Linked DNA regions of Homo sapiens: region 1 is linked to region 2. Evidence: fine-mapped expression QTL. Tissue or cell type: iPS cells. Region 2 holds a variant in brackets; the other region holds the start of a gene. All regions are shown on one strand. Distances are from middle to middle. Region 1 holds the start of NEIL3 (nei like DNA glycosylase 3). Region 2 overlaps NEIL3 (nei like DNA glycosylase 3).

Region 1 (8,347 bases), 48 kb before region 2:
AGAGGATATCCATACAACTGGGGCTTAAAAGTTGGGAGAACTTGGCCAGGCACGGTGGCTCACACCTGTAACCCCAGCACTTTGGGCGGCTGAGGTGGGCGGATCATGAGGTCAAGAGATCGAGATCATGAAGGCCAACATGGTGAAACCGTCTCTACTAAAAATACAAAAATTAGCTGGGCATGGTGGTGCGTGCCTGTAGTCCCAGCTACTCGGGAGGCTGAGGCAGGAGAATTGCTTGAACCCGGGAGGCAGAGGTTGCAGTGCATGTTGGTGCATGCCTGTAGTCCCAGCTACTCGGGAGGCTGAGGCAGGAGAACTGCCTGAACCTAGGAGATGGAGGTTGCAGTGAGCCGAGATTGCACCACTGCACTCCAGCCTGGGTGACAGAGTGAGACTCCATGTCAAAAAAAAAAAAAAAAAAAAAAAAAAATTGGGAGAACTTCAGTAAACTGGGAAAAAGAGGAGGTATTAAAAACGTGAGAATAGGCCGGGCACGGTGGTTCATGCCTGTAATCCCACCCAGCACTTTGGGAGGTTGAGGTGGGCGGATCACCTAAGGTCAAAAGTTTGAGACAAGCCTAGCCAACATGGCAAAACCTGGTCTCTACTAAAAATACAAAAATTAGCTGGGGGTGGTGTTGGGTGCCTGTAATCCCAGCTACTCGGGAGGCTGAGGCAGGAGAATTGCTTGAACCCAGGAGGTGGGGGTTACAGTGAGCTGAGATCACGCCACTGCACTCCAGCCTGGGAGACAGAGCTAGACTCTGTCTTGGAAAAAAGAAAAGGTGAGAATAATAGCATGAGCCAAAAAACAAAAGGTACAAAATATATTCTGGGAATAAGTACAATTTATCTTAATTTCGTAGAGTATTCATAGTTTTCAAAGTGCTTTCACATAAGCTATGTTGTGTATGGAAATTAGAGCAATCATATGCAGGTGTATAGAAAAAGTATTATTTATTGTCCATATGAAGAAAGTGAGTTTTGGAAAAGATAAATGACATATATATATATGGTTATCAAATAGCACAATTTAATAGATTTAGCAAATTTACTGAAATTAGTAAATTGGACTTAAGAAGAAATTGTGAAGGTTCCTCTGGTAAGAGTGCACAAGAGAAAATTCAAGGAGGATAGCAGTTAGCAGGATCCTGACATAGTCCAGCTGAAATGTAGCAAGGGTCTGCACTAGGGTAGGCTTGCTTGCAATGTTGTGGGCTCTTTTTACAGACAATGTAGATACACAGCGTATGCGAGTTTGCTTTTGATTGGACGTAAGAAGCAAGATCAAAGAGATATACCAAAGGACTCAGAGGCTAGTCACATATAAACAAAATCTGGGCCAGGTGCAGTGGCTCATGCCTGTAATCCCAGCACTTTGGGAGGCAAGGCGGGTGGATCCCTTGAAGTCAGGAGTTCAAAACCAGTCTGGCCAACATGGTGAAACCCCGTCTTTACTAAAAATACAAAAATTAGCCAGGCGTGGTGGTAGGTGCCTGTAATCCCAGCTACATCGGAGGCTGAGGCAAGAGAATTGCTTGAACCCAGGAGGTGGAGGTTGCAGTGAGCCAAGGTCAGGCCACTGCACTCCAGCCAACAAAACAAAACAAAATCTGACTCCGCCTTTCAGTCACGCCAGTGAAATCTCTTAATGCCTTCAGTGTCAGTCCCCAACTCTTACTAATTAAAGATCGTATTTGACCCAAATGTGCACAGTACACAACACCTTAAAGAGAAATGAGGTGAATCAGATAAATGAACAGGTTGATATTTTTTAAATTTGTCCACAAGCTCTTTGATATCCCTCCTTTCAAATCACAGCTTAATTCCCCTCCCCTTGTGAATGCACTGTATTTAATGACTGGCTTCTAATGAATGGAATAAGAAGTAAGTTACCATAGTAAACTAAGTAATAAAGGGTGACTAAGTAATAAAGGGCATTGCAGCTTTCTCCTTGACTTCTCTCTTGGATCACACTCTCAGCTGCCATGTCATTAGAAGAGCCGAGCTGCACTATAGAGACACAAGAGGTGAGAAACTGAGGCCTCCTGCCAACAGCCATGCAAGTGACTCATCTCGGAAGTGGATCTTTTAGCTACAAAAAGCCTTTGGGGCACTTTAGCCTTGGCTAATATTTTAACTGTAACCTCTTGAGAAATGCTGAGCCAGGATGACTCTGGCTAGCTAGACTATTGCCAAATTCCTGACCCACAGAAACTTTGAAATAACAAATGGGATAATTGATGAGGTAACAATAAATAACTAGTACAACGCTGAAAGAGGAGAAGGTATATAGGACTTTTCTCCATCAAAGGACAGAGATTATTGAATTGAACAAGGGAGTAAAGTACAAATAGTCCTGAAATTGATCCAGCCAACTTTTGATCACTAATCTCTCCCTGCAAAGGAAAGATTTAATACTTTTCAAAATTTCAATCAAGTCTTCAGTATATTCAAATTCAACTCTCTAGTATACAGATGCTCCTCAACTTACGATGGGGTTATGTCCTGATAAACCCGTTGTAAACTGAAAATACAGTAAGTCGAAAATGCCTTTAATATATCTAACCTACCAAACATCATAGCTTCACGAGGCCCTCCTTAAATGTGTTCAGAACACTTACATTAGCCTACAGTTGGGAAAAATCACCTAACACAAAGCATATTTTATAATAAAGTGTTGAATAATTTATTGACTACTGTACTGAAAATGAAAAACAGAATGGCTATATGAGTACTCAAAGTACAGTTTCTACTGTGTGTCACTTTTGCACCATCATACAGTCAAAACACTGTTACGCTGGGGCATCCTAAGTCAGCAACCACCTGTGTATATGCTCTTGTGGTTTAACGGCAGCACAGTGCTATGCTTATGAAATCACTTAGAAATTGACATTCTGTTTTAATGTGTAGTATTTCAGTTTTCAAAAAAGAATACACTTTATAATTTACAAAACTATATGGAGTCATAAACTTCATAGATTTATATGTATGCATGCATCTTTGGTTAGGGTTGTGGGTAAATTTGAAAAGCTACGCATTACCCTCAAATTTATATAAACCTCTACGTTTAACAAAGCAATTTCATATAGCTTTCATCTTGGGGCGTCCCCTTACAAAATGGATGCATGCACTTAGGTAGGGCTCACTTAACTATCTAATAATGGAGTTTTTAAATATAGACACTAGAATATATTCTGCTGTTTGTTCCAAAAACCCTCTTCTTCGTTTCTCTTATCCCACCCACGTCCGAATATAGCATGCCAAAAACAGAGCCAAAAACAAGATTGTCTGTGACATATCTGTCCTGTCACAGACAAGGACAGATTAAGAGGACCAGATCAGAAAATGTGTGTATACTAAGTAGCTCAAAGACAAGGGCAAAACTTTAACGCAAAGAAAATACATTCAGAGCTTTCCAAGTCCCAATTTCTTCTGCTTTTACAGTTCAGCCTAGTTAGTTGTCCTCCACGCCCCCCGCCCCACGCGCGTTTGCGTTTTCTTAATAAACCCACAGCAAGACCTAGGGCGGGGGTGAACCACAGCGCATGCGCCGTAGGGAGCGACCTCAACAGCTAGGGTGCTGTTTGGGCGGGGCCTGGGCGGGGCCAGACGCGCGCGAGATTTGAATTTCCTCTGCGTGCGGTCAGTGCCCGCGCAGCGTTGAGTTGCACAGCGGTATTCTCACCAGGCCCTGCAATCGGTGGGCCACAGTGCCGGCCACAGAGATGGTGGAAGGACCAGGCTGTACTCTGAATGGAGAGAAGATTCGCGCGCGGGTGCTCCCGGGCCAGGCGGTGACCGGCGTGCGGGGAAGCGCTCTGCGGAGTCTGCAGGGCCGCGCCTTGCGGCTCGCAGCCTCCACGGTTGTGGTCTCCCCGCAGGTGAGCTACTCCTGTAACAGGCCATGCAGTCAGCAGGGGGGAAATGGAATAAAGACCCCATCAGGGTTCCAGGATTTAAAGTGTCATCTCTTTGCTCTGGCCCAGGTTTCCTGGGGTCCCACCTTTCACAGAGTTTATCGTCACTTTACTGTAGGGAGAAGTCGGTCCTAGCGCGCCTGCGCAGGAGAGGAGGGCTAGCGTTCTGGGCTCACGCTGCCGGAGCAAGATGCCCTAGGGGAATCCAGTGAAGGTGTTTTATCCGAGTCACCTTACTTAACTTCTTTATGATACACACATGGTTTCCCATGTCTACAGCTGCATTTTTTACTATTGATATTATCAAATCTCTGCTACCTCTGATATGTTTTCTTCGTCCCATTTTAAGCTTTTAGCATAAAATTCTACTTTCTTGCTTGGCTAATCTGCAATTGGTAAGTATATCACAACTAGTATATAATTCTAAAACTACACGTAGAAAATTTAGCACTAACTTCTCACTCAACTTCATATTGCCATCTAATTAAGGGGCAATGAAACCCAGTTCTGGTTCCCTTAAGTGAATTTATTTCTTTTTAAAGTAAACTAGCACAGCTTCTTGCCACTCAGGCATTCATTGCAGACGATGTGGTATTCATTTGGCCAGAACTTGTACTAAAAATATTCTGATTAAGGCATCATGTTTTAAAAGCCCTCTAGATGTATGGATGATTGTATTTCATGCCTACATGCAATATTGCACTGTATTTCAATTTCTTCTGCAAAGCTTCTTATAGCCTTTGGTCCTGGAAGAAAAAGTTGCCTGCTATGAAATTAGCATATGCTTACAACTTGAAAGAAATGAGGTTCTAAGTCTAAGAAAATATATTTTCAAACTTGGGAAAAAATAAGTTTTACATCTCCTTCCAATTGCCCTTTTGTTTATTTTGACTTGATATGCCAGTAAGTACTCTGTACCTATTTTTTTTTATTATTGTTATAGTGTTTCTAAAATCGTTTCAGGGTACCACAGAGATGGATTTTAGATGGTTTCTTAAGAATATTAATATTTATGAAAATTACTCATTCAATAAAATTTTGAATACTCAAGACACCTGGGGAGCAAAAACAAATACTTCCTCTTTTGGAGCCTATACTTCAGTTGGGAAGACACAAAGACATTCATTAAATAATCACCTAAAGAAATATAAATTAATAAGTTCTGTGAAGGAGAGATACACGATTCTTTAAGGACTTGTAGGAAGACCTGGGAAGGCTTCCCCAGGGAAGTAGCAAAGCTGAGGTGTGGGCCGGGTGCAGTGGCTCATGCCTGTAATCCCAGCACTTTGGGATGCTGAGGTGGGCAGATCGCCTGAGGTTGGGAGTTCAACACCAGCCTGACCAATATGGAGAAATTCCATCCCTACAAAAATAAAAAATTAGTCAGGCATGCTGGTGCATGCCTGTAATCCCAGCTACTCAGGAGGCTGAGGCAGGAGAATCGCTTGAATCCAGGAGGTGGAGGTTGCAGTGAGCTGAGGTCGCGTTATTGCACCCCAGCCTGGGCAACAAGAGCGAAACTCTGTCTCAAAAAAAAAAAAAAAAAAAAAGCTGAGGTGTGCAGGGTGAGTAGAAGCCATGCAGCTCAGGGATTGGAACAGGAAAAAGACTGAAAGAAAGCCAGAGTAGACACTGCCCTCTCATTTAGGAGTCGACTGCAGAAATCCAGGTGACAAATTTGGGGTCAAGTGCTGGTGGTGGAGATGAAGACAAGAGAATCACTATGATGGGAGGGCTAAGCAATGGATATGACATGAATATACTTAGGGATATCATCATTTACATCATTCAACCACAACGTATTTTGTGTTAGGTTTTATGCTAGCTCCTGCGGATACGAAGATGAGTAGGATATGCTTTCTGCTGTGAGAGTCCAACCTAATGTTTTAAATAAATATCACCTCATTGGTATTTAGGAAAAATAGCTTAAACATTTCCTTTTAAGTTTTGTTGTGATTATCTCTGATGGTATGGCATGAGATGCTTTTACATTTCATTCAGTCATGAAAAAGGATAACCCTATGATAAAGGATTAACCTGATTCTACAGATGAGGCATATGAGGCTCAGAGTGACTTTAAGTAAATTTGCCCAAGATCACATGTCTAGTAAGGGGCTAAACCAGGGTTTGATTTTTCTTTAAAACTCCAAAGCCTACCCTCTTAACCATGCCATAGCTCCTCTCAGCCATAAAAGATTCAGTAGGATCTTTATTGCTTTTTTAGCATACAACGGTAAGAACACCATAATGCTCAGTATATAGTAGTGGTTATTTATTAAATAGAAAAGTGCAATCTTGGATTTTTGGCTGTGTCTACCACCATTTTTAGTTTTGTTCGGTTGAGTCAATTCTCTTATATCTATTCTGATAATTCTCTTCTAACAGCTTCTATGGCCATGTTTGGATTGCACAAAAGAGTGCAGCCTGATAATATAATACAAATGCGTCAGTAATGGTTAGGCAATTATTAACATCACTTGGCAGCAATATTCAATAAGTTATACCCCACACATAAAAAGCCTGGCATTTAAAGGTATTATTTTTGATACCTTGATAGAAAGAGGCATTAAAAATTGGAATAGGTCTTTGTGGTTAGTATCAGGAATCTGGTTCTATGGACACTGGATTTTAAAATCAATATGGAAGGAATACATTCTTTGAGGCTGTTGGTAAATTTCTAAATAATTTACTATGGCTTCATTTTCTGGGACTTTGATCTGAAAAAAAAAACATAATTATAACCTTTTGTAAACATGAAGAGTCTTTTGCATTTTAGAGGGATCCATAGTAAATTTCATTAAAACATGGTAGGTTGTCACAAACCTCTGGCAAGATCATTACTGTAGCAGATGATCCCATGTCTCCTAGGCATTTATGCCAAAGAGTTAAAGCTATTTAAATGTTTCTGCTACTGGCTTGAAATGATTAGTTTTCACAAGGCAGCATTTAAAAATAATTTAATAACTGCATACTGCATTCTTTACAGTGCAGTAAACATGGAAAAAGTTACTAATGAGAGCTAAAGAAATATTTAATGGGCATTCAAAATAAAATATTTAAACCTCAGATAATCATACCAAAAAACAAACCAAAAAACACTACTTCAGTAGTTATTGCCATAATGGACTGTTACTGTGTCATATAGCATTCCTCTTTGTTACAGTATAAAGTTTATAGAGAACACACTTGAATGCATGTCTGCCTGTGACAACTGATCCTCATTTTGAGAAAACCTAGCCATAGAAGATCCCAGCATCTGCTAGTCATGGATGTACTATATTATTTTTCTGAGTCGTGATCCACTGTCTTGTCAGCATAAAATTGTGCAACAGTATAAGCAAATTGCATAAAACTCTGCTGGAGATTGTGGAAACTTATGGTAAGAAACAATATTGGAATATAAATGAACATATCTGGTTAATGAGCTTTGAAGAGTCAATCCTTTGATTTTAATTGTTGGGTGGATACAATATTTTAGTGAAATCATATTTAATCTGCATGTGTTTTCAATCTCACAAAACAGGATATGAAACAGTTTATAAGCATTCATTTTATTTGAAACATGGTCTGATTATTTCCATCACTCCTTAAAATTTGATACATGTATTTAATATGCCAGCTATTTATCGTTATATATGCTTCACAGTGTCAGGAACTGAGGAGACATTTAATAAAAGTTGAATGGATGGAGAAGAACAAGGTTTTGAATAGTGCAAAGTGATTAAAGATTTAGAAATAAATTCCATTTGGACTCTTTCATTATGAGAATGTGTATATTTTGTTGTGCATGTTATATGGAAATTCCTACTACCAGAATATAAACCAGGTAGTAAATTTTCCTTCTTCAAAGTGGGGGAAAAAAATCGTGGCTCATTTTATTGCCATTATTTAAAGAAATGAGCTAATCTACAGAGATTCATTTTCCAGCAAAATGAGGCTCATTTCTTTAAGCATCTGAAGGGGATTTCTAAATAATTTAGAGAACATGCATTATATACTTCCTTACCTTCTTAAATGGATACTAATAATGATTTATCCTTAATGACTCAAGATCATCATTATTGGTATCCAGAATCCTATGGAATCATGAAACAAGGGATAACAAAGAACAGAAACATTCTTACAAAGGAGGAAAAAGGGGAGGTGATTTTCCATGGCCATTGTAGCTTTTTATCCAAGATGAACATATTCGGCATGCTGCAGAGAAGAGAGCATCTGATCATCTTGATTTTGAATTCCCATTTTTTTGTTACTTCCTCGTCTGGAGATGCTTATTGTTGCATCTTAGCTTATTTGGTCAGGATTAAATTAAGCAGCATGTAAAATTCTTAGCTTAGTACCTAGCAAAATAAACATCCTGGGAATTGTTCCTTTTTCTTCTGGATCAGAGCTTTCTCACCAGACCCATTTATCTGAGGAACACC
Region 2 (8,347 bases):
GGTGATCTGCCCACCTCAGCCTTCCAAAGTGCTGGGATTACAGGCGTGAGCCACTACGCCTGGCGTTGTTCTTTAACTAAAAGTCCTAAAAAGCATACTTGCTACTTTGTATCTGAAATTCAAAAGTTGTAATTCTAACTAAGAAATACTACCAGAGCAGATATATTTTATAGGACTTCCAGCTACATGTCCAGGAGAACACCCTCATTTTTGTCACCTGTGATACAGAAATTTTAATACATAACGTCATCCTCTCTTTTCCTTAATGATTATCGGCAGCTCCTGAAACAATTTTCTGTTGACCCTCCTTCCCCCTTTATCTGGCCCTCCCAGTCCCTTTATCTGGAATTCCTAACTATGGCAACCCGATGTTATATCTCCAACACAGGACACATTTCTCCACCATTTTCTTTTCTCAGCTGCTTTCTTTTTTCCTTCAGAAAGCAGCTGACTTACATCCAGCATTTTTAAATAAGTGGAGAATTTATAACATATAAATGGAGGGTCGTCCTCCCATGTATGTCTTTTCTTGCCAATGGGAGACAGGCAGAGAAGGAGTTACAGTCATCCCTCGGTATCCTCAAGGGATTTGTTCCAGGACCCCCAGGATACCAAAATCTGCAGATGCTCAAGTCCCTGATATGAAATGGCATAGTCCTTGCATATAACCTATGCACACCTTTTCATATATTTAACTCATCTCTGCATTACTTCTTATAATACTGAATTCAATATAAAGGCTGTGTAAATAATTGTTATACTGTATATTTTGTGTAATTTTTTTATTGTTTCATTATTTTTTGTTTCCAAATATTTTCGATCCAAGGTTGGTTGAATTCATGGATTGGGAACCTACGGCTATGGAGGGATGTACTTTGGTTGGGACCTAGAGTAATCTCAGGTGGAATTCTGAGATTCACTGGCTTTTCCTCTTATTAGCTGTGCCTTTACTGATGGGTAGATGCCTTCTCTCAGCGGTGGGGTGAGGGACCATTTGGTGTAAACTCCTAGAGCAACCTGTAGGAATCCTTAAGCTTATTTCATAACAAATTCTGAGACAGTCTCTGCTCAATAGATGTGTTTACTCCAAGTTTCCTATTCCAGCTCTAAATTTACCATCAGTTAATCCTGATGATTTATCCTTGACTGGTTTTTTTAATGTCTTGTTCATAATCATTTATGATAACTGGTTTAACTTTTGTTCATATACTCACATTTGAAGTAAGCTAAGGGGGCTAAACTTTTAACTGACTGGATAAATCCACCACGTTTTCACTTTAACCCTAATTAGTGCCTCATGATAGAAGTTCATTAAGGAGTTAATTAAGAATGTTTGAGTTGGGAGGCTGTCCTGGAACAGAAAATCATTTCCAAACAGTCTTTTCTGTTCCGTGGCTTAAGTGGAAAGTAGAAGTGATCATCTTAAAATATTGTGGCATTTGTTGTACCTAGATGAAATATCTTGGCATATTTTTATTTCCTTAATGCTTTGTAGAAAATCTCAGACATTTTAACTAATGAATTAGGGATTTAAAAAAACATTAATGTAACCTTAAATTTAAATGATTTCTTCATAAGCCATTAGTAATAGGATCATATGATTAATCACAGTGCACAGCATTACTTAGGAATGCTGCAGCCTGTGTATGTATTGAATATAAGAACACCAGGACTGAGACTCCACAATCAATCAAGATCAACTAGCAGAATAAATGTCAAGTGATGAAATAAATTCACCCAGCAGCCCTTCTGCACCCAGCTACTTTACAAGGAATAAATTGCAAATTACTGTCATTTATTTCATTTTTCTCCTTGTCTGGCAGCTATAGTGTTCATCTTGTGGACAAGATGCCTAGCAGAAGCTCACAACATAATACTATTAAAGCAGGTGGTCCATTCATAATTTATAGCCAGTTTATTTTTTCTTTAATATTATATGATAATTACTTTGACTTTTGTTCTCTTAATTACTGTTCTCATTACCACACAATCCATGCAGTGTTGATGAGGCATATTTTCTGATTGGTCTTGAGATAGATGTGTATTCCATCCAGCTATTGGCTTATAAATTAGATGATTGAACCCATTTTTAAACAGTTAAGAATAATTACTAGAAACAGTTTAAGTTGTCGATCCAATTACTGTAAACACAGAGCAAAACACAGTGATGCAGTTTCAAAGAATGCATGTGTTTTAGGCTGAAATTTTTCCTGCGTTGATGCAAAGGCTCACATAGGAGGGTGAAATGACAATAACAAAATCATTAATATTTTCTCACATTTGCTGCCGTCAGGGATGTTGAAGATCTGTCTTTAATCACCAGTGCAAGTACTGACACCATGTCCTTGTCTCTTGGTTGCTTCTTGGAGTTTTCAGTCTCAGGATTTCAGAACCACCTGGGGCCGTCCAGAATGAGTCATTTCACTTTTGTTTGTTTTAATCCTCGAAATAATCCTGTATGACAAAATCTACATTCAGTGAGACCGATTAATCCAAAAAATTCAGACAGTATTTTTATTATAATGAATCGCCCTATCTATAAAATGAGTTAAACCAAGCTTGTCCAACCATAGGCTTGTGGGCTGGACGGCTTTGAATGCAGCCCAACACAAATTTGTGAACTTTCTTAAAACGTGAGTTTTTTGTGTGATTTTTTTTTTAAGTTCATCAGCTGTCACCAGGGTTACTGTATTTTATGTGTGGCCCAAGACAATTCTTCTTCTTCCACTGTGGCCCAGGGAAGCCAAGATTGGACACCCCTAAGTTAAACTGTGATAAATTGACCATGAAAAAATAATATTCACTTTAAAATTACAGATCTGTGCTTAGTAATGTCTTCCTTCTTGATGATAGTTTTTGTCTGGTCTCTGTTCAGTTTTATTTATTAATAAGTATTGAGAATCTATTATGCCTCGGGCATTGTTCTTGATTCTAATGACATGTACATGAGCAGACTATAGCCAGCAGGGCCAAATCCATCCCACCACCTGTTTGTGTAAAGCTTTATTTACATTTGTTTAGATATTATCTATGGCTGCTTTTTGTGATAACAAACTTAGACCGTAAGACCAGCAAGCCTAAAATACGTTATCTGAAAAGGTTTGCCAGCCCCGATCTGTTGTATTAATAGATCACTTATAACCCAGAATTAATATTCAAAATCATGGTCATGATCACGAAAATGAACAATTCTGTATGCTACATTTAAGTAAGAAATCTGCTATATTTTAGAAAGTTTTTATAAAACAAAGAGGAACTAAGATGTCCTCAGTTAATCAGAACATTTAATTATCCTGGATAATGTTGTCTATCATAAAATTAAGATTAGCTGTGCATATTTAGAGCCAGTGTGATACAGGTGGCATTAGTATCTTGGTTACGTTACTTCAGTGCTTCATAACTTAATGTGCATATGAATCACCTGGGAATCCTGCTAACATGCAGATTCTGATTCTGCAGGCAATCAGGAGTAGGGGTGGATATGTCTGTGTTTTCTAACAAGCTCCGGGTGATGCTGCTGCTTCTGGTCAGTGGACCACACTCTGAGTACCAAGAATAAGATCACA[C/T]GTGGCTATGTTTTTGTTGTTGTTTTTTGTTTTTTGTTTTTTTTGAGAAGGAGTCTTGTTCTGTTGCCAGGCTGGAGTGCAATGGCGCGATCTCAGCTCACTGCAACATCTGCCTCCCGGGTTCAAGGGATTCTTCTGACTCAGCCTCCCGAGTACCTGGGATTAGAGGCACCCGCCACCACGCCCAGCTAATTTTCTATTTTTAGTCGAGACGGGGTTTCACCATGTTGGCCAGGCTGGTCTTGAACTCTCGACCTCAGGTGATCCGCCCGGCTCAGCCTCCCAAAGTGCTGGGATTACAGGCGTGAGCCACCATGCCCAGCCTGTGGCTATGTTTTTAATTTAATTTTTAAGGGAAGAAATGGAGTGGAAGGCAGAAGTGAAGGCAGAGAGATGACATTTGGGCCTCTCCTTTCTACTTTAATCCTACCTTCTACCTTGGCCCTTCTCCCCAGAAAAATTTTAATACAGAATCTAAACCTCTCCCTGGATATGTGGAACCCTGGAGCTCTCTAGGTTGAAACAAGTAGGTTAGAAAATGTTCAACCGTTATCCAAAACAGCCGCCTCTAAAATAATATATAAAACTGTTTTTGTGTCCACACAATTTTTAATAAGAATGCATCATTTCATTAATTTTGTTAATATTCTTAATCTTTTCTCCTTTAATTTTAAGAGAGCATTGTTTATGAACCACTTGCTTTAATTGTGAAATCTCTTGACTTCTCTACAACTGTCCAGATATCTGGCTTCCCTTGAAGTTAAAGTTTTGGAGGAGATTGGTGAAATGGAGTTTTGGAGGGGGTTGGTGAACTGAAAGGTTGTGGAAAAGAAAAGTCCTCTGCCTCTCAGCTTTCCTATTTCTGATCTGGTATTACCCATGACTTGAAAATACAGCCACCACCCCTCTACCCTGGAAAAGTTACCATCAAAATAGTTGCTGGTGAAGTATTTAATGGTGACGATTGATTTAGCAATGCCTGCAGCTGCTCTTATTTTACAAATGGCTATTGAAGAAACCTTCAAAAACTGCCCTCAGAATGTTTGAGTTCATCCCAGCAAACATTTTCAAAGCAGTATATTTAAGCATCCTTTATATAAATGAATTTCAGTCCATTTAATCACAAATAAGAGATTGCATTCTCTGAACATTTCAATTAGATATGATGCATTGAGGCATCATAGAAACAAGTGTGTAAAAAATGCAGTTTAGGAAGCAAGGAAAAAGGGAAATCACCTTTGATTTTTAAGTTTTTTTTTAACAATTATTTAAGAATGATATTTTTGTTCTTTAGATATTTACCGAAAAGATGAGAATGGATTAACTGTTTTATCATTAAAGAGTTAAAAAAAAATAGGAATATTAAGAGGGGGACTTCTGGTTTTAATGAATGTGAACACTTTCTCTTCAACCAGTTTATTAAAAAACTAATTCTCTTAAAGGCATTATTAAAATATGCACAACACAGAAAATTTAAATAAGCTTCTTTTCAAGAAGAAAATTCTGTTTATACAGCTACAGTACAAGGCCAGCTTCTAGCCTGTGTACACTGGGTATGAGGGCAACCTCCAAATACTCTTGATCCTAATTATGGGGGAGAATAAAGCTTCCCTGCTAGCTTTACAAAATTCACATTTTTGCTCTCTGCCAGGCAGCCTGTTTCTTGCAGGAATATGATTGCGACTATTATAGTAGCCTTGATCAAAGAAAAGCATAGAAAATTGTCTTTAAAGTGGACAGCAGAGAGAGTGATTTCTATGGCCTTGTCAGAGCCATTGATGAGAGTTTGCTACCGATGAGAAAATAATTAGAGAAGATTGTGACTAGCTACTTTGGGGCCAGTGGGAATGGAGAACCTGGACTTGAGAATATTTTAGAGGAAAAAGAAGTGGCTACAGTGTGATATTGGGTAAGAAAAGAACTGAATATCACAAATGAAAAATAAAATTTGATTTACTGGATACACAGTCCAGCTGCTTTTGTTCTTTAGAAAGTTAAATTACGTGTTTTAGGTACATAGGTAACTTTGGAAATAAATTAGAATTACCTGGGAAAACAAAGAATAAAGACAGCCTTTTGCATAATGACCTAATGTTAACGAGGTCCACTTTTTGATAGAATTTCTTGGTACAAGTGAAATTCTGACATGTGGGGGTAAAGTGGTGTGAATGGTCCCTTAGCACTCCTATGCTGTACTTATTTTGTAACCTGTCATTACAGTGAACTTCAAATTAATATGACAGATGGCCCTCGTACCTTAAATCCTGACAGCCCTCGCTGCAGTAAACACAACCGCCTCTGCATTCTCCGAGTTGTGGGGAAGGATGGGGAAAACAAGGGCAGGCAGTTTTATGCCTGTCCTCTACCTAGAGAAGCACAATGTGGATTTTTTGAAGTATGTGTAAGATTTATCTAGCTTACTAAAATGTAATTAAATGCTTTGGTTATTAATGTATAACAAATAGCAATACTTTCCTAGTTTTACCTTTTACCTTTAAATTTGAAATAGCCATATTGGCATTCAGTCTAAAGCTTGAATGTTGACTAACTTAAAATTCAGATGTTCAGCCACAAGAAATTTAATAAAATAATAGCTATTACATTGTTAGAGTATATCATATTTATAATCATAAGTCTAGAAGTGTTGCACTTAGCTTGTAAAGTTAGAAAGACACTGAGTGACTAGTAGGTACTAGTAGTACATATGTGGCTAATAATCCAAGGTAAGAATTTGTTCTTCCTAACTTCAGCGCTACATCAAAACCTTTGGTTTATGCATTGGATAAAGGTTTATAAGAAAAGCAATTTACATGCCTGGGATTTACAATAACCTTATCAAATCCTACTTAACCACACTTGACCCAAAAAAGTGATGGCACCATAGCAATTTAGCTATAGGCGATTCCTCCTGCCTTTCCAGTCTGTGGATGTATCCCTAAAGATGAACCTAAGATAGGAGATAAGAACCTCAGGTCCGTTTAGTCAGTCTCACTTCCGGTATTCCTCGGTGTGAGCATCTCATCAGGCTGAGTGTGATTCTAATGTTCAGAGATACATATTTTTTCTAGTTACTCTTCATCTGGAATAGAACTGAAAAAAGAAAATATTGATATGTTTCAGTGCTGGCGCAAAGATTTTCTGGTGGACTTTTTGAAAGATCAAATATCTGTCTTCAATGTGATACCTTCTTAAGGAATTTCCCGGGGAAAACTGGATAGTGATTTTAGACCTCAATCTCTAAACACAGTGTAACTCTACCCTACAAAATTCACAGATTTCCTCCTCAAGAAGCTTTTATAGATGTAATGGGAAAATATTATTAGCAATATTCATGGTATTGCTAAAAATATAATAGCCTTTTTCATATCTCTCTTGAGGTCAAAATTAGTAAGAATAATATAATAGAATCTGTCTAATTCAGTCTGCGTAAGTATTTGATTCTTTCTTTTCCTAAGGAAGTTTAATATTAAAATCATGACAAATCTTTGATCTTACAGGGTTTTTTTTGTTGTTGTTTGATTTTTTTAGAGACAGGGTCTCCCTATGTTGCCCAGGCTGGTTTCAAACTCTTGTGCTCAAGCTATCCTCCCACCTCAGCCTCCCAAAGTGCCGGGATTAAAGGCATGAGCCACCGCACCTCACCTGATCTTACAGGTTTAACTGAAACAGACCTATAGCAGGGATATTGGTGATTACAGCAAGATTTTGATAGTTTTCAATTATTCTTAACAAAGTGAAGAAACTTCTGTAAATATACCTTTAGATAAAGGGAAGCTCAGAATTATGGCCATTTTCTGCGTGATTCAAACAAATTTGTAAGAGAGATGCTTCTTTTAGGATATAAGCTTTTTTAAAGGCGACGACTAATTACTGGTCTATTTTACAATGTCAAATTAATGATAACAGCAGTGAAGACTATATGGCACTAATCACATGTGCCTAGGGTTAGCCTGTACATCATGATAACTTTTGTATAAACTTGTAAATTTACCTTTTTTTCCTGCAGTGGGCAGATTTGTCCTTCCCATTCTGCAACCATGGCAAGCGTTCCACCATGAAAACAGTATTGAAGATTGGACCTAACAATGGAAAGAATTTTTTTGTGTGTCCTCTTGGGAAGGAAAAACAATGCAATTTTTTCCAGTGGGCAGAAAATGGGCCAGGAATAAAAATTATTCCTGGATGCTAATATCTGTAGATTCTCTGGCATTTAGTCTCTTCAAACTGTGTATAATGTTTGGTCCTCCTCTGTTTCATAGAAAAGTCATAGAATATCTATGATACATTGAAAAGTTACTGCAATATTTGAGAACTGTTCTTTTTTTTTCTTGTGTGTGCCATCTTTCCATTGTTGGCTACGTCTTTTCTTTTGCCTTGATGAACGTTCTATGTATTTCATCGGATATACAGCATATTCCATTTAGGATGTGTATTTAATGCATTTAGTAATGACGATAAAGTGTTTTTAGTATGCTTTTAGTCTCTTGTAACTGGGGAGAAGCAGTGTTTTTTTTTTAGGAAAGGATTATGCGACACAATAAAATAAGATATTCTGTCTGTAGTGAATACATTTCTCATGTACTAACACTATTTATAATATATGATTAAAGATATTTCTTGTTTTATTAAATAATAAGAAATAAGATCTCCTTTATGAACAAGTCTATTTTTAAAATTCTGTTCAACCAACATTAAGTTCCTGTTAGAGGCTGGGGCTATGCCAAACCTTGTATGACTTCAAATTTGTGTTCTCATGTAAAGTGATGTGGATGCAGACTATA

The links. PIP is the estimated chance that this variant, and not a neighbour inherited with it, causes the effect. A credible set is the group of variants that fine-mapping cannot tell apart.
Region 1: it holds the start of NEIL3, and the variant in region 2 is the best candidate, but not a certain one, in a credible set for the expression of NEIL3 in iPS cells (HipSci, PIP 0.58).

What each region holds. Positions count from the first base shown.
Region 1 is chr4:177,306,223-177,314,569 of GRCh38, forward strand. NEIL3 (nei like DNA glycosylase 3) reads left to right here and starts at 3,652. Exons shown (of 10, transcript NM_018248.3): 1 at 3,652-3,887. The coding sequence starts at 3,732. RefSeq lists a silencer at 3,533-3,652 and an enhancer at 3,733-3,822.
Region 2 is chr4:177,354,717-177,363,063 of GRCh38, forward strand. NEIL3 (nei like DNA glycosylase 3) reads left to right here. Exons shown (of 10, transcript NM_018248.3): 9 at 5,787-5,961; 10 at 7,573-8,220. The coding sequence ends at 7,755. It overlaps LOC105377558 (a long non-coding RNA gene), which reads right to left. Exons shown (of 3, transcript XR_007058384.1): 2 at 2,279-2,454. Among named protein-coding and RNA genes, the nearest start is that of NEIL3, 49 kb to the left of the region's middle. The variant C/T (reference allele first, on the strand shown) is at 3,567.